Linked DNA regions of Homo sapiens: regions 2, 3, 4 and 5 are each linked to region 1. The links come from fine-mapping of genetic effects on gene expression. A gene starts in region 1. Each other region holds a variant in brackets. All regions are shown on one strand. Distances are from middle to middle. Region 1 holds the start of PNKD (PNKD metallo-beta-lactamase domain containing). Region 2 overlaps PNKD (PNKD metallo-beta-lactamase domain containing). Region 3 overlaps CATIP-AS2 (CATIP antisense RNA 2). Region 4 holds the start of LOC105373880 (a long non-coding RNA gene). Region 5 holds the start of LOC105373881 (a long non-coding RNA gene).

Region 1 (4,179 bases):
GTAGAGATGGGGTTTCATCATGTTGGTCAGGCTGGTCTCGAACTCCTAACCTTCTGATCCACCCGCCTCGGCCTCCCAAAGTGCTGGGATTACAGGCATGAGCCACCGTGCCTGGCAACAGTTTCTTACTAAGAACTAGCACTTGAGAAAGTTATATAAAATATGCTCAAAAAGATATAATTATCTCTCATTTTATTTTATTTTTTTGAGATGGAATCTTGCTCTGTCGCCCAGGCCGAAGCGCAGTGGCACAATCTCAGCTCAATGCAACCTCTGCCTCCCAGGTTCAAGTGATTCTCCTTCCTCAGCCTCCGGAGTAGCTGGGATTACAGGCACATGCCACCACACCCAGCTAATTTTTTTTTTATTTTTAGTAGAGATGAGGTTTCACCATGTCGGCCAGGCTGGTCTTGAACTCCCGACCTCAGGTGATCCACCCGCCTTGGCCTTCCAAAGTGCTGTGATTACAGGCATGAGCCACCGCACCTGGCCAATTATCTCTAATTTTATACTCACTACTTTTATTAACTTTTATCAAAGATAACTTTTTTTTTTTTTTTTTTTTTGGAGACAGACTCTCATTCTGTTGCCCAGGCTGGAGTGCAATGGCGCAGTCTTGGTCCACTGCAACCTCCGCCTCCCGGGTTCAAGCAATTCTCCTGCCTCAACCTCCCGAGGAGCTGGGACTACAGGCGCCCGCTACCACGCCCAGCTAATTTTTGTATTTTTAGTAGAGACGGGGTTTCACCATATTGGCCAGGCTGGTCTGGAACTCCCGACCTTGTGATCCGCCTGCCTGGGCCTCCTAAAGTGCTGGGATTACAGGCGTGAGCCACCATGCCCAGCCAAATTTTTGTATTTTTAGTAGAGACTGGGTTTTGCCATGTTGGCCAGGCTGGTCTCGAACTCCTGACCTCAAGTGATCCACCTGCCTCAGCCTCCTAAAGTGCTGGGATTTCAGGAGTGAGCCACCACGCCCGGCCAAAGATAACTTTTTAAAAGAAAACTAAGAGGTTAATCAAGGTTAACTGGCAAAGTAGAGGGTGTCTCGACTGATGCCAGAAGCCAAGCAATCATCCATTCTGCCACACTTTCCCACCTGTGGGCTCCTCCAGCGCAAGGCCAGCATCTTGCCCATCTCTGTGTCCCCCATAACGTTCTGTCCATGGCTGATGTTTAATGCTTACACGCCCACCTAAACTGATTTGAGGTGGATCGCCTCAAAGACCTACCTGAGTGCAATGCAAAGGTGACCTCGCTATCGTCGGGGCCCTCCATGCTGCCGACCACCCCTTCCTGGGGTTCTAGAACCCAGCCCTCTTCGTTGCCCTCTTCCTCCTCTTCTTCCTCAAAGTCCACATCTTCCATCTCCTGGGCCAGGTCATCTGCTTTGGGGAGAGGGTTAGAAGATGGGGCTCGGGAGGCGGTAAGAGGTACGGAGAGAAGCATGAGGAGGCCTGAGGCTGGGGCGGGTCATGTGGCGAGAAGGGAAGGTGGAGTCAGACACACCGGGGTCCGCGGGGGCGCGCGGGACACAGGACGGGAGGCCACGGCTGGCCAGAGACCGTGCGGTAAGGGAGGGCCAAGGGGATGATGGGAAGGGGGTGTGTGAGGGGAAGGGCCAGAGGAGGCGTCAGGGAACCCCCACCCCAGCCAGGCCTGAGAACTAAGTGTGAGGGTGGGAGTGGGGGAGGAGGGGAAGAGGGATATCGGTAGGAATGACCAGTCGGGTGTGGAGGGGAGCGGGGAAAAGCAGGAGTCAGAGGCCAGGGGTGAGCGTCTCCTGTCCCATGGCCTGAGGAGCGGCAGTTCTCACCTGGGTCCGGCGGACCGGGATCAAGTTCTACCACCTCGATAATCTCTTCATCACCATGGAAGCTTAGGGTCTCCAGTGGGGGGGTGTCAGCAGCAGCCCCGCTTTCCGATTCGGACTCCATGCGGCGCAAGCGGCGGATCCACTTCTCTGGGCCCAAACGCCTCCCAGAGTCAGCTCTGCGCGACGACGCGGAACTCGAGCCCCTCCTCCCGGCAGGAAGTAGGCGTAGGCGACTCCCCAGCAGGAAGAGCGACGGCCGTTCGGCCAATAGCTACGAAGGTTGGCTGGCCGCCTCACCAATCACAGAGCGGCATTGGAAGATGGGGCCGGGGCGTGGCGGAGAGAACCCAAACTCCGCCCCACCTGACTCCGCCCCCAACTGGAGGGAAACAAGCGAGCGCGCGCGCCTCCGGGGTCTCCTGGGAAGAGTAGTTCTCCTGGGTCCGCTCTGCGGGCTTCTGGGAGATGTAGTTTCTGGTCTGTAGGCAGGACGGAAGGAGCGGGGGAGGCCCCTTACGCAAACTACAATTCCCGGCGGGGAGCGCGGTGAAGCGGGGGTGGGATCTGAACATGGCGGCGGTGGTAGCTGCTACGGCGCTGAAGGGCCGGGGGGCGAGAAATGCCCGCGTCCTCCGGGGTAAGGAGAGGGACCCCGGGGAGGGCAGGACTGCAGAAGATCCCTTTTCTTTCACGTCCAGCCCGACGATAGCAGGAGGTCAGGGCTCTTGGTTCCTCCCCACACTTTTCTGCAAGATCTTAGAGTCTGGGGGTGCAGAGATGCTCTTTAGAGGTCACCCAGTGCATCCCCCCGCCTTCGGGTTGCTCGACACCTCCGGGGTCTTGCTGCAAGAGGGAGCTCCTAGGAAGCCTGTTGGACTCCCGCGCTCCAGGTGTTTCACACTCACCGCAGTGCAGAGGAAAGAGCCCCGGGCTTCTGGAGGTTTGAGTTCCAGCCCCGGATAATTAGCAGTTTGACCTTGGGCAAAGCAGTTTTTCTCTCAGGGCTTCAGTTTCCTCTTCCGTACAGTGCAAGGGATGGAGTAGACTATCTTTAAGGTCCCTTCCAGTGCTAACATTTGCAGTTTCAAAACCTTTTCCCGGATTTCCTTCATACGTCTTATGTGAGTCCCACTGCAGTCCTTCCCATGCTGTCGTCTGAGGAAGAACAGCGAAGCTTTTCGTCCTGGCACCAGGGTGATGAGCCCGCAGTGACGTGGAAGTGGCTTCCAAAGGTGCCACCTCGGTGGCGATTTTCCCATTTCCCTTTGGATTCTCCTTGGCACTTCTTACTTCAGACTGCAGTCACTCCCCTTCCCCAGATCTCAGCCGCTCCTCCCAAGCCCTTACTGCCCCCCACCTCCCCGCTTGCTTTCTTCTCATCTCTTCTTACTGACCTTCCTTACCTCCATCCACAGGGATTCTCGCAGGAGCCACAGCTAACAAGGCTTCTCATAACAGGACCCGGGCCCTGCAAAGCCACAGCTCCCCAGAGGGCAAGGAGGAACCTGAACCCCTATCCCCGGAGCTGGAATACATTCCCAGAAAGAGGGGCAAGAACCCCATGAAAGCTGTGGGACTGGCCTGGTGAGTTTTAACCACCCCTTTGCCCACCAACGGGGCGTGGCTTGTAGGGGAGGGCAGGACTTAGAAACTTCTCCAAGTTTCAGGTGGCGAGCTGAATCCAAAGTTGTGGGAACAGAATTGTTGGGTTCGATTGGAATCTCAGAGGGGTGGGGCAGTGGAGGTGGGAAAGTATGTGGAATTGAGAAGACAGTGGGTTTACTGTGGAGTAAGCTGAGTTGATCTGATTCAGACTTGGGTCCCTGGCCTCATCCTCCCTTTTGGGAGCTTGGAGTGAGACCCAAGTTTAAGTAAGTAGTTCGTTGAGATCATGTGAGCTTGTACTAGTTGTATAGTAGTACTCAGAAGGCGTTATGAACATTGTGATTGGGCTCTGACTCTGACCTTAATACATATTATTGACCAATATTAAAGAGAAAGGAGGAAGAAATCAACATTTTTTTCTGCATGTGAGGTGTGCCAGTACTTTGCCATGTAATGTTTTAGTGTTTGAGATAAGTATTACATCCCCATTTCACAGAGGAAGGAACTGAGACTGAGCTAGGATTCTCACCTAGTCTGTGACTCCATGCTCTTTCCCCCATACCAAAGTGCCTCCCAAGCAGTGGTTACTTAGCTTAAGAGGGGAAAACTGGGAGGGTACCTTGGCCAAGTCTCAGAGAGGGAAAGCGTCAGGGCTGCCTGGAAAATCCTGCACAGGTGCTGTTGCAGGAATGCAGGGCTCGTGCTGAGGATCAGGCTCTAGGCGGGAGGAGGAAAGAGGCAGGCAGAGACCCAGCCAC
Region 2 (4,179 bases), 67 kb after region 1:
CTTGGGAGGCTGAGGCAGGAGAATTGCTTGAACCTGGGAGGTGGAGGTTGCGGTGAGCCAAGATCACGCCATTGCACTCCAGCCCAGGCAACAAGAGTGAAACTCCATCTGGAAAAAAAAAATGTTAATTGTCCTGTCTGTCCTACTAGATAGAACCTTCACAAGGACAGTGAGTTTGCCTTGCTCAGTGTGTGTTCAGTGCCTGGCCAATAGCAAGGATTCAGTAAATATTGTTGAAGAAATGTAAGTTGGCCAAATCTAATTTAGAAATAAAACCAAAAAAAAAAGAAGGCCTACGAAAAAGGAACATAAAGACAAATAAAGGTTGGCAAAGCCCTTCAACCATGTGCCCAGATTGCCAATCAATATAAACCCATGGGTACATAGAGCAGACAATGCAGTGATTAAACTTTACCTAAATCATATCTACAAATTGCCATGGAAACCTGCTTGGTTTTGACCCAACTGCTTGCAGACAAATCAGCTAGCTCTCCCCTTAGGGGTCTGAAGAGCGGCTGCCCCTGCTCCCACATACACGGTCAATCCTTGTAGAGACTTAGGGTCAGCCAGGCGTGGTGGCTCATGTCTGTAATCCCAGCACTTTGGGAGGCCAAGGCGGGTTGATCATGAGGTCAAGAGATTGAGACCATCTTGGCCAACATGGTGAAACCCTGTCTCTACTAAAAGTACAAAAATTAGCCAGGCGTGGTGGTGGGTGCCTGTAATCCCAGCTACTCGGGAGGCTGAGGCAAGAGAATCACTTGAACCCGGGAGGCAGAGGTTGCAGTGAGCCAAGATCGTGCCACTGCACTCCAGCACGGTGACAGAGTGAGACTCCATCTCAAAAAAAAAAAAAAAGTTTGGAAAAAATAGCCATTAAAAGTACTAAAATATGAAGCTTTTTTTCTTCTACAATCTCTATTTTGACCTGTGATGTTTTTAATTTGCTATTTAATGTCATTCTAAGTAAGAAGCATTTAAATTATTAGCAGGAATTTTACCATTTGCTTAATATTGTGCAATGCCTGTTTTAAATACAAATATAAGGACATTTAACTCCTGTAGAATCACAGAAACGACATAATTAATATTTCTTAGCTTATACATGGATGTGTATTTAGTTCTTACCAGGAGAGGGTCTCCTCTGTCACTCAGACTGGAGTGCAGTGGTGCAAACATGGCTCACTGCAGCCTTGACCTCCTGGGTTCAAGTGATCCTCCCACCTCAGCCTCCCAAGTAGCTGGGACCACAAGTGCATGCCACCATGCCTGCCTAATTTTTGCATTTTTAGTAGAGACAGGGTCTCGCCATGTTGCCCAGTCTGGTCTCAAAATCCTGGGCTCAAGCACTTCTTCCATCACCACCTCCGAAAGTGCTGGGATTACAGGAGTGAGTCACCACACCTGGCCTTCAATTCTTTTTTTTTTTTTTTTTTTTTTTTTCAGACAGAGTTTCACTCTTGTTGCCCAGGCTGGAGTGCAATGGTGTGATCTTCTTGGCTCACCGCAACCTCCGCCTCCCAGGTTCAAGTGATTCTCCTGCCTCAGCCTCCCAAGTAGCTGGGATTACAGGCGCCCACCACCACACCCTGTTAATTTTTGTATTTTTAGCAGAGATGGGGTTTTACCATGTTGGCCAGGCTGGTCTCCAATTCCTGACCTCAAGTGATCTACCAGCCTCTGCCTTCCAAAGAGCTGGGATTACAGGTGTGTGCCACTGCACCCAGCCTTCAATTCTTTTCTTTTTTTTTATTGAGATGGAGTCTCACTCTGTCGCCCAGGCTGGAGTGCAGTGGTGAGATCTCGGCTTACTACAACCTCAGCCTCCCAAGTAGCTAGGATTACAGGCGCCTGCCACCACGCCCAGCTAATTTTTGTAGTTTTAGTAGAGATGGGGTTTCACTATCTTGGCCAGGCTGGTCTTGAACTCCTGACCATGTGATCCACCTGCCTTGGCCTCCCAAAGTTCTGAGATTACAGGCATGAGCCACCGCGCCCGGCCTTCAATTCTTAATACGTGCACATTCTGCCAGCACTGTTGGCTTGCTAGTTAATAAGGAAGGATGGAAAGGAAAAGGATGGATTGGTTACCCTATCTTCCCTTTCCTTTCTATATCGCTATTTGCAGCATAAATAGGTGGATAACACAAAAGCAAGAAAGGATGCAGCAGAGTTCCTTGGTCATTCGTGTTTCTTAGAACACCTCTGTCTTTGTGCACTTGAAGCACGTTCTAGTTTGAACTGAAAGCTTGGCCTCTTGGGTCAGTCATAGGTGTGCACTCGCCTTGTACTTGCTTTGAGTCTTGTTGAACTCCCATGCGTTGTGTGTCCCCCAGATTTGTGTGCTCATGGGCATTGCAGACTCTGTATAGGTATGATAAGCGAGGAAC[G/A]GAGCACACTCACTGTGTGTGTCTCTTGCTCCCTGCATGTCCCACTGTCCTATCAGGCTCCACTTGCAAGACACAAGGTCAAAGATAAAATCATTAAGAATTTCAGGGTCGGGCACGGTGGCTCACCCCTGTAATCCCAGCACTTTGGGAGGCCAAGGTGGGCAAATCACGAGGTCAAGAGATCGAGACCATCCTGGCCCACATGGTGAAACCCCATCTCTATTAAAAATACAAAAATTAGCTGGGTGTGGTGGTGCACGCCTCTAGTCCCAGCTACTCAGGAGGCTGAGGCAGGAGAATCGCCTGAACCTGGGAGGCAGAGGTTGCAGTGAGCTGAGATTGCACCACTGCACCCCTGCCTGACGACAGAGTGAGACTCCCTCTCAAAAACAAACAAACAAACAAAAATTTCAGGCTTGGCCAGGCACAGTGGCTCACACCTGTAATCCCAGCACTTTGAAAGGCCGAGGCAGGCGGATCACCTAAGGTCAGGAGTTTGAGACCAGCCTGGCCAACGTGGCAAAACCCTGTCTCTACTAAAAATACAAAAAATTGCCGGGCATGGTGGTGTGAGCCTGTAATCCCAGCTACTCGGGAGGCTGAGGCAGGAGAATCACTTGAACCTGGGAGGTGGAGGTTGCAGTGAGCCGAGATTGCACCACTGCACTCCAGTCTGGGCAACAGAGCGAGACTCTGTCTCAAAAAAAAAAAAAAAAGAATTTCAGGTGGGACACGGTGGCTCACACCTGTAATCCTAACACTTTGGGAGGCCAAGGCAGGAGGATTTGTTGAGCCCAGGAGTTCGAGACCAGCCTAGACAACAAACTGAGACCCCATCTCTACAAAAAAGATAATTGGGATTACAGGTGCCCATCACCACACCCGGCTAATTTTTGTATTTTTAGTAGAGACGGGGTTTCACCATGTTAGTCAGGCTGGTCTTGAACTCCTGACCTCAGATGATCCACCTGCCTCGGCCTCCCAAAGTGCTGGGATTACAGGCGTGAGACACCACACCCAGCCTCAGATGATTTTTTTTTTTTTTTTTTTGAGACAGGGTCTTGTTTTGTCACCCAGGCTGGAGTACAGTGGTGCAATCATGGCTTACTGCAGCTTCACCCTCCCGGGCTCAAGCAATCCTCCTGCCTCAGCTACCTGAGTAGCTGGGACCACAGGCGTGTGCCACCACGCCCAGCTATTCTTTTTTTTGTGTGTGTAGAGACCCTATAGGGCACAATGTTGCCCAGGCTGGTCTCGAACTCCTGGGCTCAAGTGATCCTCTCTCCTTCCCTCCCAAGGTGCTGGGATTACAGGTGTGAGCCACTGTACCCAACCTTCTTCAGATGATTAGGATGCATGCTAAAGTCTGACCACCACTGTTCTTTCTGAAATATTTTTTCTACCTCATTTCAGCCTCCTAATTCCTACTCCTTCTTCCCTGCAAATGTCACTTCATCAGAGGTGCTAGACCCTGGGCTAGATTAAACCCCTCACTCTCCAAGTCTCTCTTTTTTTTTAGACAGAGTCTCACTCTTTGGCCTGGGCTGCAGTGCAGTGGTGCGATGCCCAATTCTCCTGCCTCAGCCTCCTGAGTAGCTGGGACTACAAGCGTGTGCCACCACACCCGACTAAGTTTTGTATTTTTAGTAGAGACAGGGTTTCGCCATGTTAGTCAGGCTGGTCTCGAACTCCTGACCTCAGGTGATCCGCCCACCTCGGCCTCCCAAAGTTCTGGGATTACAGGTGTGAGCCACTGCGCCTGGCCTCTCCAATTTTCTTCTGTGAGTTC
Region 3 (4,179 bases), 82 kb after region 1:
AGACTGTAATTTATTAAAGAGGGATTGTAGCCACTGAGGGCTGAAGCTGGCATTTTCCCTGAGCCTGTTAATAATTTTGATTTTATCTTTAGGTACCTGTAGATTTTCCTTTACTTTACTAGGTGTTAATCCAAAAGCAGCATGTTTCATTTAAAAGTGCATCACTAGGGCCAGGTGCGGTGGCTCATGCCTGTAATCCCAGCATTTTGGGAGGCCGAGGCGGGCGTATCATGAGGTCAGGAGATCGAGACCATCCTGGGTAACACAGTGAAACCCTGTCTCTACTAAACAAATACAAAAAATTGGCCAGGCGTGCTGGCGGGCACCTGTGGTCCCAGCTACTCAGGAGGCTGAGGCAGGAGAATGGTGTGAACCCGGAAGGCAGAGCTTGCAGTGAGTCAAGATTGCACCACTGCACTCCAGCCTGGGCAAGACAGCAAAACTCCATCCCCCACCAAAAAAAGTGCATCACTAAACCCAATTAAAAAGTCCTAGCTGACTTAGTGATAGTAAAACTTTTATGCTTCCTTTTTGTCAATAACTATTATCCCGGTTATAAGGATAATAATTAAGCAAAATAGGACAGCAATGGAAACTGTCCAATATTTTAGTTAGAAGGTGCTACTGTGTATAACACTATTGCAAATAGTAGAGTGAGGACAGCAATTTCCACAAGTGTAGTGTGGTAGATAATTTCCACCTAATATTTTACTTGCCGGCCGGACGCGGTGGCTTAAGCCTGCAATCCCAGCACTTTCGGAGGCCAAGGTGGGCAGGTCACCTAAGGTCGGGAGTTCAAGACCAGCCTGACCAACATGGAGAAACCCCGTCTCTACAAAAAAATACAAAAAATTAGCGGGGCATGGTGGTGCATGCCTGTAATCCCAGCTACTCAGAAGGCTGAGGCAGGAGAATTGCTTGAACCTGGGAGGCGGAGATTGCAGTGAGCCAAGATTGTGCCATTACACTCCAGCCTGGGCAACAAGAGTGAAATTCTGTCTCAAAAAAAATTTTTTACTTGCCAAGATATAGAATTCCCCTTTTAGGGTCTCTGAAGTTCCTTGGTTTTATTTTCCCAAACAAAGAAACCTCCCGGTTATGAGCACCTTACTCACTTTCTTTACCTGGCAAAATTTGCAAGATAATTGCCCAGAACTAGAGTATTGATTCACCTTTTTACCTTACCCATCGCTTTTTTTTTTCCAAGCTGCAGAAGATCACCTCTTGATTCACAGGAATAAGCAGGGTTAGTCTAAAATGTAAGCAAAAAGTTTAAAAACAATTAATGAAACTAGGATTTAATGACAAATGTATGATAAGCTTTGGATCAAAATTTTTCTCTTCAGTCCTCATTTTTGGTAAGCACTAATTATGAATAAACTTTAGTCCTTTTAGAAATAAATTATCAGGGCTGCAAAAGAAATAGCACTCAAGACCAGGTGCGGTGGCTCACACCTGTAATCCCAGCAATCTGGGAGGCCGATGTGGGCAGATCACAAGGTCAGGAGATCAAGGCCATCCTGGCTAACACGGTGAAACCCCGTCTCTACTAAAAACACAAAAAATTAGCCAGGCGTGGTGGTGGGCGCCCATAGTCCCATCTACTCAGGAGGCTGAGGCAGGAGAATGGTGTGAACCTGGGAGGCAGAGCTTGCAGTGAGCCGAGATCGCACCACTGCACTCCAGCCTGGGCCACAGAGTGAAACTCCATCTCAAAAAAAAAAAAAAAAAGAAAAAAGAAAAGAAATAGCACTCAAACATAAATTTAATTTTCTCAGCAAGGCAATTTTACTTCCATACAAGGGTGTGTCTCACGGATGGAGCAATGGCGAGAGCACACCTGAACAAGGGAGGGGAAGGGGTTCTTATCCTAACTCAGCTAGTCCCTACTGCTGTGTCTTTCCCCTATTGGCTAGGGTTGGACCACACAGTCTAAGCTAATTCTGATTGGCTATTTTAAAGAGAGCAGGGGTATGAGCCAGAGTGGTGGGATAGGTAGTTTGGCAGGAAGGATGGTTACAGAACAGGTGACTCAGGATGACTAACAACAGAGCAGGTGACCAAGGGTGACTAAGTTCAGAGCAGGTGATAGAGGCTAGGAGGGGGTTGTTTACTGTAACTAGGGGCAAGGAGATGTAAAGAACGAGAAACTTTAAAATGAAGAACAAAGAACAGGAGAGCTGAATATACTGATACATTGGTTCTTTGAAGAGGATCTCAGAACTCATTGTGCTTAACAATTTATAGGCTAAAACCTTTGAAGAGGAATTTATTATATCCTACAATCTTATACTTGGCCTGATTATTTGCGTAAAGTGCAGCAAGAATGGTTATTTTTACTTACATAGGCCTTTTGCATTGGCTTTAATGAAACTCTGTTTCACAAGGAATTTCAGATAAGACTTTTAAAGCCAAGCCCAGCCATGGGTTTGTATCCTCTAACACCTGTGAGTTGGGTGATCCTCTCTTGAGGTC[C/T]CAAGATAAACTCAGAGCTTCCAGACCTGTTACAAAGTTATGTGTCTGTTCTTTTACCAGTACCATGCTGTTTGGTTACTGTGGCCCTGTAGTGTAGTTTGAAGTCAGGTAGCGTGATGGATGCAGCTTTATTCTTTTTGCTTAGGATTGCTTTAGCTATTTGGGCTCTTTTTTCATCTGATATTAATTTTAAAATAGTTTTTTCTAGTTTTGTGAAGAATGACAATTGTAGTTTAATGGGGACAGCACTGAATCTATAAATTGCTTTGACTAGTATGGCCATTTTATGATATTGATTCTTCCTATCCATGAGCGTGGAATGGTTTTCCATTTGTTTGTGTCATCTCTGAGTCCTCTGCACAGTGGTTTGTAGTTATCCTTGTAGAGATCTTTCACTTTCCTTGTTAGCTGTATTCCTAGGTAGTTTATTCTTTTTGTGGCAATAGTGAATGGGAGTTCGTTCATGAATTGGCTCTCTGCTTGCCTGTTGTTGGTATATAGGAATGCTAGCGATTTTTGCACGTTGATTTTGTATCCTGAGACTTTGCTGAAGTTGCTAATGAGCTTAAGAAGCTTTTGGGCTGAGATGATGGGGTTTTCTAGATATAGGATCATGTCATCTTCAAACAGGGATAGTTTGACTTCCTCTCTTCTTATTTGAATGCCCTTTTTTTCTTTCTCTTGCCTGACTGCTCTGGCCAGAACTTCCAATACTATGTTGAATAGGAAAATATAAATTTTAAAACATAAGTATTGGCTGGGCACGGTGGCTCACGCCTGTAATCCCAGCACTTTGGGAGGCTGAGGCGGGCGGATCACGAGGTCAGGAGATCAAGACCATCCTGGCTAACGTGGTGAAACCCTGTCTCTACTAAAAATACAAAAAAATTAGCCAGGTGTGGTGGCAGGCGCCTGTAGTCCCAGTTACTCAGGAGGCTGAGAGGCAGGAGAATGGCGTGAACCCGGGAGGCAGAGCTTGCAGTGAGCCGAGATTGAGCCACTGCACTCCAGCCTGGGGGACAGAGCGAGACTGTCTCAAACAAACAAACAAAAGTATTTTTAAAACTTTTAAGTTCAACTTACCAGTCATATAATTCTCATCATAAATCTAGTGAATGTTAACATTTTTTAGAAACAGGGTCTCACTATGTTGCCCAGGCTGGTCTTCAACTCCTGGCTTCAAATCATCCACCCACCTTGGCCTCCCATGGGATTACAGGTGTAAGCCCCTGCACCCAGCCAAGGGGGCTTTAATTAATAATTGGTTGGTCTTCTTTTCAAAATTAAAACTGCTTTAGGCAGCTTATACTGCAGTTGTTCATCCAATATATTTTATTTCCTTTTTTAAAGCGATTGATTGATAAACCAGCCTCCCAAATACCTTTACTGCAACCTAATAAAAGTAAACATATAAATACAGTAAATCTTAATTTTATTTTTTTTAATGTTCTGGTTCTACTTGCAATCTCAATAAGAAACTTTAAAATTCAAAATCAATTATTCAATAACCCAATTTAAACTTGAATCTGCAGACGTATCTTTTAAGCACTCTAATATACCAATTTTAAACATTTTAAGAACCTGAAATAACAGAGTTCTTTCCTTTCGCTGCTGCAGCCGCAGCCATAAATATGCTCAGGCTTTAGAAGAGGTTCGCTTCTAGTGTCCTCTGCTGTGGCAAGAAGGTCTGGTTGGACCCCAGTG
Region 4 (4,179 bases), 46 kb after region 1:
CACCCGGCTAATTTTTTGTATTTTTAGTAGAGACAGGGTTTCTCCATGTTGGTCAGGCTGGTCTCAAACTCCCAGCCTCAGGTGATCTGCCTGCCTCTGCCTCCCAAATTGCTGGGATTACAGGCGTGAGCCACCGCGCCCTGGCTTTTTTTTTTTTTTTTTTTTTGAGACAGAGTCTCTGTCTCCCAGGCTGGAGTGCAGTGACATGATCACAGTTTACTGCAGCCTTTACCTCCCAGGCCCAAGAGATCCTCCTACCTCAGCCTCCTGAGCAGCTGGAAGCACAGGCGTGTACCACCAAGCCTGGCTGATTTTTTAAATTTTTTGTAGAGATGAGGTCTCCCTCTGTTGCCCAGGCTGGTCTGGAACTCCTGGGCTCAAGCGATCCTCCCACCTTGGCCTCCCAAAGTGCTGGGATTACTTGTACTTTGGGTGCAAGTTAGCCACCATGCCTGGCTATACTTGGATTTTCTTGATTCTTTTGAGTTTTCACATTTTTTCATATTTATTAGCCATTTATTAATTTATTAATTGAGGTCATTGTGTTTTCACATTTATTTAAGGTCTGTAATCACTCCTTGGCCTTTTGGCTAAGATCAAGTATATTTAAGTTCGTTTTTTTTTTTCTTTTTGAGAGAGTCTCACTCTGTCGCCCAGGCTGGAGTGCAATGGGGCGATCTCGGCTTACTGGAACCTCCACCTCCTGGGTTCAAGCGATTTCTTGTGCCTCAGTGCCCAAGTAGCTAGGATTACAGACGCCTGCCACCATGCCCTGCTAATTTTTGTATTTTTAGCAGAGACTTGGTTTCACCACTTTGGACAGGCTGGCCTTGAACTCCTGGCCTCAAGTGATCCACCTGCTTCAGTCTCCCGAAGTGCTGGGATGCCAGGCATGAGCCACTATGCCCGCCTGAGGTTTTCTTTCTTTCTTTCTTTTTCTTTCTTTCTTTCTTTCTTTCTTTTTCTTTCTTTCTTTCTTTCTTCCTTCCTTCCTTCCTTTCTTTCTCTCTCTCTCTCTCCTTCCTTCCTTCCTTCCTTCCTTCCTTTCTTTCTTTCTTTCTTTCTTTCTTCTTTCTTTCTTTTTTGAGACAGTCTTGCTGTGTCACCAGGCTGGAGTGCAGTGGCGTGATCTCAGCTCACTGTGACCTCTGCCTCCCAGGTTCAAGCTATTCTCCTGCCCCAGCCTCCCAAGTAGCTGGGACTACAGGCACGCGCCACCACGCCCAGCTAATTTTTGTATTTTTAGTAGAGACGGGGTTTCACCATGTTGGCCAGGATGGTCTCAATCTCTTTGACCTCGTCATCCACCCACCTCGGCCTCCACCCGCCTCGGCCTCCCAAAGTGCTGGGATTCCAGGCATGAGCCATGGCGCCCGGCCAAGGATTTAAATTTTAAAGTAACTAAAACAGTAATTATTTCCCTTGTTAGATCTTCTGTTGCTTTTTTCTGAATAATGTATGCCTTTAAGGAATAATAGGAATAATAAATGCCTTTAAGAATAACATACGCCTATTAAGGAAAATTAGAATGACGCATTTGTTATTTTTAGCTTTAGAAAATCCTCTGCTATCCAGATTGAACATGTCTTTCATTTTCTTCTAATTTTCTGTGGTTTAATTTTATATCCTTAACCCTTTAATTCGGGTAGAATTTATTTTGGTGGATTCTGTGAGGCACGAGTCTAAATTGCTCTTTTGTAAATAGCTAGTCACTCATCCATCATGTCTTTCCAGCATCATTAATATTCTGTTTCCCTCTGTCACTGTTAACTATTATTGCAGTAATGCTGCATAAGAAGCCAGTTCAAAACTCAGAAGCCTACAATCATAAGCATGTATCTTGCTCATGCATCTGTGGGCAGGCTGAGCTTTAGCTGATCTAGCTTGGGCTCTGCTGGGCTGGGTTGACTTCCAAGCTGTGAGTGGGATCCAGGTGGCTCCATGTGCCTTTCATCTCCCTTAGACCAGCAACATCAGTGGCGTGGGAAAATATACCTCGCCTCCATTGAAGTGATGCACAGTCACAGGGTGAACGGTATGTTTACAGTGAGAGATGAATAACTGGAAACTGAAATGCCATCTACCACACCTTTGGAGACAGCCTTTCAGGAAACTAGATTGTGTTGAGATAAAGGCAGAATGGAGTCTAGAAAATGGCACAAGGTCAAGGGAAGATTTTTTTCTTTCTTTCTTTTTTTTTTTTTTTTTTTGAGACAGAGTCTCACTCTGTCACCCAGGCTGGAGTGCAGTGGCACGATCTCAGCTCACTGCAACCTCCACCTCCCAGGTTCAAGTGATTATCCTGCCTCAGCTTCCCAAGTAGCTGGGATTACAGGCACCCGCCACCATATCCAGCTAATTTTTTGTATTTTTAGTAGAGACAGGGTTTCACCTTGTTGCCCAGGCTGGTTTCGAACTCCTGAGCTCAGGCAATCCGCCTGCCTTGGCCTCCCAAAGTGCTGGGATTACAGGCGTGAGCCACTGTGCCCGGCCAGGAAGTTTTTAAGGCAGGGAGATGCTGGAATTTGCTCTTAGGCTGAGGAAAATTG[C/G]AAAATATGTAGAGGGGTAGGTAGTCACAGAAATTGTTTTCTCTAAGAAGGATATTTGTTGAAAGTAAAGGAAATGACGTTGGGGCTTGAGGTTTGGAATAACAACTGCAGATGAGATGGGGCCTCAGCAAAACGGAACTGCCAAGCACTGGTATCAGGGACTTGGGATGGCCTGAACCATCGCAGCCCTGAGTCATATGACACAGCAGTTTTCTTCAGCCCTGCCCGTGAGGTAGGAGACTGTCAGGTTGGTTCAGGTAGGTCTGAAGGTTGGTAGGTTAAGGCTGGAGGTCAAGGGGGTCAGGGGATCAGGAAGCTAACAGGTGGTAAGTAGTTCAAGGGATTGAGCCTAAGTTCAAATATAGGTGCAAGAGGGGCTGAAGGGCTGGAAGAAAACAAACTGCCTGAGGAGCTGGAACTGGAGGTCCATGTGTACTGGGGATGGGAGGGGATCAGGGAAAAGGACATTGGAATTTAGGTTCTCAGAGGCAGAGAAGTTCCAGGTGAATCTAGGGTGTGGCCATGTGAGCAAGCTGCTGAATTATGTCGAAGGCATTGGAATTGAAGTCAGGAACTGAGGTCAAGGCAGAGTTCAGAACCACCTATGCGAAATGCACACTCTTGGGCCCCAGCCAAACCTACTAAGTTTGAATCTCTGGGGGACGGACCAGAATTCCGTATTTTTACAAGCTCCCTGAGTGGTTCCTAGGCTCCCTAACACTTGAAAACTGCTGTGCTATGATGTTGAATGAGCCATGCTTGTTGGAATTACCTGATGGCAGGAATCAGGCAGGAAGACTAAAAACAGGTGTTGAAATCCTTAGAGAGTCTGGGCTGATCAGTGTATGGGACTGATGAGGAGGGGTGGAAAGAAGTTTGTACATGAGTCAGGAAGAGCAATGGCCTTGGCCTGGACTATTGCTAGTGCATTCCTTTCCAACCTGGAGACAATGTAGGAGACTAAAGGCTTCCACTGCAGAAGGCAGGGCAGTGAGAGAGAAGGTAGGGAATAGAAGACAGGGATCATATTCAGTCCAGACAGGCTGGGAGCTCTGTGAGAAGGCAGAGGACGTTGGGGAAGGATTTGTTTCAGACCAAACCAGGGTTCTGCAGGGTACAGCAAAATGGCTCGGACAGGAGTTCATGAGAAAATGGTCCACGAGGGAAAGTGAGCTTTGGTTGGGGATAACAGATGAGGGGATGGACTGGGCTAAGCAGAGGCCAGATTATCCCAGTCACCACTTCTGCACTGGGTTCACTTTTCTAAACTGAACTAATTTCTCCACCCAGGTCTGACAAGATGTCTCTTTTCTCTAACATTTAAACAGCTCCAACCATCTCAGCTCCTTCATGATTGTTTCGTCATCATCACCATCGTCACTGTCATCATCATCATCATCACCACCAGTGATTTCCTGAATGCCAACCAAGCACCAGTCATCAAGCGTGAGCCACGGTGCAAAGATGGAGGCAGGCTCTCCATTCTAAGGGAACCTCTCAGGCCAGTAGGGAAGGCAAGATTCAGACACCAGGGACAGGCAGCCTGGGATGACAGGTGGAACAAGGAGGAGACACAAGAACCCCCACCCCAACCCAGGAACCCACATCACAGGCCAGACCTGCATGATCG
Region 5 (4,179 bases), 53 kb after region 1:
TTAGAAGTCTTCCAGAACAGTCTAAGGGTGGGGTTATGGCTCCCTGGGCCTGCATGACTCCCCTAAAACACTCACCCTCACTCCTTTTCCCAGTCCCGCCTTGACTCCATATGTTTCATCAAACATATCTTGGATTTATTATCTATAATCTTGTTAATTGTCTGGCTTGAGATTTAGAATTTGGTCATCTCTGTGTTCTCTACAAGCTCATGCTTGAGCATGCATTTCCTGTTTCAGATTACAGGACTGCATTTTAATTTCTTGATAGAATGCCTGATATAGCCTTACCTGGCACAGCCTTACCTGCAGAAAGTTGTGTGCACAATGACTTTTGATGATGCCTCCATGATCCTTCACTTTGCATGTACAGACACAGACACGGAGATGCAAACTCCTGCATCCTACAAGGGTCATCTGCAAATTGGCTTATCAGTTTTCTCACTCCTCTGTCTCCTCTGCGGTACCAGCCCTTTATATGCCAGGCACTGAGAAGCAACCTAATTACAGGCGAGGAGACAGGGAGGGAGCAGGCCATAGGCTCTGTCCCTCAAGATGTACCCACATAGAAGAAACTCCAGGTCTGTCTGGGTTTTCTGGATTAAACCCAGATTCAGGTATTGGAATTACAATTCAGTTTGAAGATAATTTAACATATCCCTCACCCATCTCCCTCCCAGAACCTCCCAGCAGCAGCAAAGGTGAGCTTGACTTTTTTTTTTTTTTTTTTTTTTGAGACGGAGTCTCACCCCTGTCACCTAGGCTGGAGTGCCGTGGCACAATCTCAGCTCACTGCAACCTCCACCTCCCGGGTTCAAGCGATTCTCTTGCCTCAGGCTCCCGAGTAGCTGGGACTACATGTGCATGCCACCATGCCAGGCTAATTTTGTATTTTTAGTAGAGATGGGGTTTCACCGTGTTAGCCAGGATGGTCTCGATCTCTTGACCTAGCGATCCGCAGGCCTCAGCCTCCCAAAGTGCTGGGATTAAGCGTGAGCCACCGCTCCCGGCCGAGCTTGACTCTTTTTTTTTTTTTTTTTTGAGCCGGAGTCTTGCTCTAGAGTGCAATGGCACGATCTCGACTCACCGCAACTTCTGCCTCCTGGGTTCAAGCGATTCTCCTGTCTCAGCCTCCCGAGTAGCTAGGATTACAGGCAGGCGCCACCATGCCTGGCTAATTTTGTATTTTTAGTAAAGACGTGGTTTCTCCATGTTGGTCAAGCTGGTCTCCAACTCCCGACCTCACGTGATCCGCCCCCCTCGGCCTCCCAAAGTGCTGGGATTACAGGCGTGAGCCACCGCGCCTGGCCGAGCTTGACTCTTTAGAGCATTTCCTTCCCTTCCTGTCCTGGGCCAGAGCTAGGGCTGGAGCCAAAACAAGCCCAGCCCTGGCTCCTGTGCCTAAATTTGTAGATTTCACCACCACCACGCCTGTCCTCACACCTGCTTCCATTCCAGGGACCTTAACAACTTCTAGAATCCATCAGGAGGGCAGCAGTGAGGGAGCTGGGAACGGTGATGTGGAAATCGCCCTGGGTTTGGGAGTGGGAATGCCCCAGCCCTAGGCCCCTCTGTGCCACCCATGGCTACATATCCTAGGTCATGTTGCTCCTCCAGAGCTTGTGTGGCCTCTTCCTATCCTTCAGGGCAGGACTTATGTCGTCCGCTGGGGAGGCCCTCCCCCATCTAAGTTGGCCCTCTCTGTGCTCCATATCATTGCCCCCTCCTTGAC[T/C]TCCTTTCGCAATTTATCACGCGCATATGTATGTGTATGCATAAACAGATATAATTTTGTTTGCTCGCTTATTTGGTTCGTCGCCTCACTAGATTCCGGACTGTGGGCTCCAGGAATGCAGACAGTGTGCCTTTGACCCTTGCATCCTCCTCAGAGCCTGGCAGAGTGCCAAGTACATAGGAGGAGCTAGAAAAGTAATTCGGCGAATGAATAAATCCATGAATGGCAGCTGACCCCGATGATCTCTCAGGTTTCTGCCAGTTGAGAAAGTGTAGCAGTGCCCTGGACGGGGAGGCGGGCGGGGCGAACTGCGAGCTCCTGCCCCTTCCCAGGGCTCAGGCGACTGTGGACCCCGATCAGCGCAGGCTCGCGGCCCGCTGTGGCCCCGCCTCCTGGCCGCCAGCCGGGCGGAGCCAGGCCGCCCCCCAAGCCGGGTGGCCTTCGGGGTGCTTGCCCGGCTGGAGGTGGTGAGGGGGCGGGTCCAAAGGAGAGGTCAATGGGCGGGGCGGGGCCACAACGCCCCCACGTCCAGAGCCGGCAGGCAGGTTCCCCGCGGGGGGCCGGGGCCGGGCCGTTGCCTAGCAACGCCGAGCCCCGCCCGGCCGGCGCGTGCCTGCCCCCAGCATGGCTTGGCAGGGCTGGCCCGCGGCGTGGCAGTGGGTCGCCGGCTGCTGGCTCCTCCTCGTCCTTGTCCTCGTCCTACTTGTGAGCCCCCGCGGCTGCCGAGCGCGGCGGGGCCTCCGCGGTCTGCTCATGGCGCACAGCCAGCGGCTGCTCTTCCGAATCGGGTTAGTGCCCGGGCTCCGAAGCGTGCGGGCTCGGGAGGCGGGCGCGCTGGGAGAGGGGACTGGGAGGCGGGGGCTGGAGCTGGGGGTGGGCGTGGCGGTTAGGAAGGGGCTTGGTCTAAGGGAAGAGGGATCGAGGAGACGGACTGGAGAAGCCACTGAGTTGGGGGGCCTGAGGGATTTGGGGGGCTGGACAATTGGGATAAGCTGGGGAAGGAGGATCGGAGAGGCGGGCCAGGGTGGCCACGGAAGGAGGGCGTGAGAGGACATCTGGAGCAAAGTGCCACAGAATGGGCTGGAGACCAGGAAGCTGGACAGGGGGATAGTGCAGGAGCCAGGGCTGGGAAGACCGTCCCTGTCCGGGGGTGAGGTCAGCAGATGCCCGGGCTCCGATGGCAAGTGCCGGAGAGAAGGAATGCCTCCCACCGTCTGACATTTAAAACCGCCAACTCCTTTCGTATGTCCTTGTCCCACTCCCCAGCATCCAACTCCTCACCAGTCAAGTTAGGTTCTTCTGTCCCAAGCAAGAGTCCCAACCCTGTTGGATTCCAGTATGTCCCTTTCCTTCTAACCAAAGCCTGGCCCGTGTGGAAGCCCCAGGCTGTGAAATCTGACCCAACTGACTCTGCCCACTTTTCCAGTGATTTGTCTCCGTCGACCCTCCCCCGCTCACTCTGCCCTCCTGCCTCCCTCTACCCCTTCCTTCCTGGCCCCAGGGGAGGGTGGTGCCTAGCAAGCACTGTTCAGCCCCAGGGACACTGAGAGGCAGGGAAGAAGACAGGCCTCCGAGGCCCCCTGTCCCCTTCCTACTACCAGCCTGGCCATGGGTCAGGACCTCAAGCCCCAGTTTAGGGACAGTAATGTTGGGGATGGGAATTGTGAGAGCCCTGGCCACAGGCCAGGTTGTGGGGAGAGCCTAAGCCTGGGAATTTCCCGAGCTTCCGAGCAGACATTGTGCAATTCACCCTCTCCTCCCCAGACCACCCCACACGCCCAGAAGCTTCAGGCGCAGGATTCCACTCACAGTCTAAGAAATGCAGATATAAAGGCAGGATAACTAGAAAAACATGGTGCTGGAGGGTGGGGTGGGGATCTTGTGTTTGTGCCTTTTGGGGCATTCACATCTCTAATATCCTAAACCTTGGTCGCAGTTTAGATAATGTGCCAAGTAAGTTACCATTGCTCTGCACGTTGCATTAAAATAATGAGATTGAAAAATATTTAGGCCAGGTGCGGTGGCTCACGCCTGTAATCCCAGCACTTTGGGAGGCTGAGGCAGGTGGCTCTCCTGAGGTCAGGAATTCGAGACCAGCCTGGCCAACATGGTGAAACGCCATCTCTACTAAAAATACAAAAATTAGCTGGGCACGGTGGTAAGCGCCTGTAATCCCAGCTACTCAGGAGGCTGAGGCAGGAAAATTGCTTGAAGCCGGGAGAGGGAGGTTGCAGTAAGCCGAGATCGCAGCCATTGCACTCCAGCCTGGGCGACAGAGTGAGACTCCGTCTCAAAAAACAAAAAAAAGAAAAAGAAAAAAAAATCCCAAACATGAAGGTATCTAAATAATTTTCTTTTTTTTTTTTTTTTTTTTTTTTTTTTGAGACGGAGTCTCGCTCTGTCACCCAGGCTGGAATGCAATGGCATGATCTCAGCATGGTGAAACAGGG

Evidence for each region.
Region 2: its variant is fine-mapped to the expression of PNKD in whole blood (TOPMed, PIP above 0.99).
Region 3: its variant is fine-mapped to the expression of PNKD in whole blood (INTERVAL, PIP above 0.99).
Region 4: its variant is fine-mapped to the expression of PNKD in whole blood (TOPMed, PIP above 0.99). The same link has a PIP of 0.9 or more in blood mononuclear cells, monocytes, monocytes after LPS and monocytes after Pam3CSK4.
Region 5: its variant is fine-mapped to the expression of PNKD in monocytes (TOPMed, PIP above 0.99). The same link has a PIP of 0.9 or more in whole blood.

What each region holds. Positions count from the first base shown.
Region 1 is chr2:218,268,150-218,272,328 of GRCh38, forward strand. It overlaps PNKD (PNKD metallo-beta-lactamase domain containing), which reads left to right and starts at 2,370. Exons shown (of 10, transcript NM_015488.5): 1 at 2,370-2,453; 2 at 3,232-3,400. The coding sequence starts at 2,387. It overlaps AAMP (angio associated migratory cell protein), which reads right to left and starts at 1,988. Exons shown (of 11, transcript NM_001087.5): 1 at 1,817-1,988; 2 at 1,233-1,385. The coding sequence starts at 1,937. RefSeq lists enhancers at 281-1,166, 1,735-2,054, 2,205-2,584, 2,615-2,664.
Region 2 is chr2:218,335,371-218,339,549 of GRCh38, forward strand. All of the region lies in intron 2 of PNKD (PNKD metallo-beta-lactamase domain containing), which reads left to right. The region is part of intron 2 of CATIP-AS2 (CATIP antisense RNA 2); the gene reads right to left. Among named protein-coding and RNA genes, the nearest start is that of MIR6810, 4.5 kb to the right of the region's middle. The variant G/A (reference allele first, on the strand shown) is at 2,391.
Region 3 is chr2:218,349,975-218,354,153 of GRCh38, forward strand. It overlaps CATIP-AS2 (CATIP antisense RNA 2), which reads right to left. Exons shown (of 4, transcript NR_125777.1): 2 at 1,186-1,252. It also overlaps the pseudogene RPL19P5. Among named protein-coding and RNA genes, the nearest start is that of CATIP, 4.8 kb to the right of the region's middle. The variant C/T (reference allele first, on the strand shown) is at 2,476.
Region 4 is chr2:218,314,078-218,318,256 of GRCh38, forward strand. All of the region lies in intron 2 of PNKD (PNKD metallo-beta-lactamase domain containing), which reads left to right. The region is part of intron 1 of LOC105373881 (a long non-coding RNA gene); the gene reads right to left. It overlaps LOC105373880 (a long non-coding RNA gene), which reads left to right and starts at 2,673. Exons shown (of 2, transcript XR_923909.3): 1 at 2,673-2,806; 2 at 3,878-4,179. The variant C/G (reference allele first, on the strand shown) is at 2,550.
Region 5 is chr2:218,320,915-218,325,093 of GRCh38, forward strand. The region is part of intron 2 of PNKD (PNKD metallo-beta-lactamase domain containing); the gene reads left to right. It overlaps LOC105373881 (a long non-coding RNA gene), which reads right to left and starts at 1,124. Exons shown (of 3, transcript XR_923914.3): 1 at 1,085-1,124. RefSeq lists a silencer at 1,962-2,481 and an enhancer at 1,964-2,559. The variant T/C (reference allele first, on the strand shown) is at 1,730.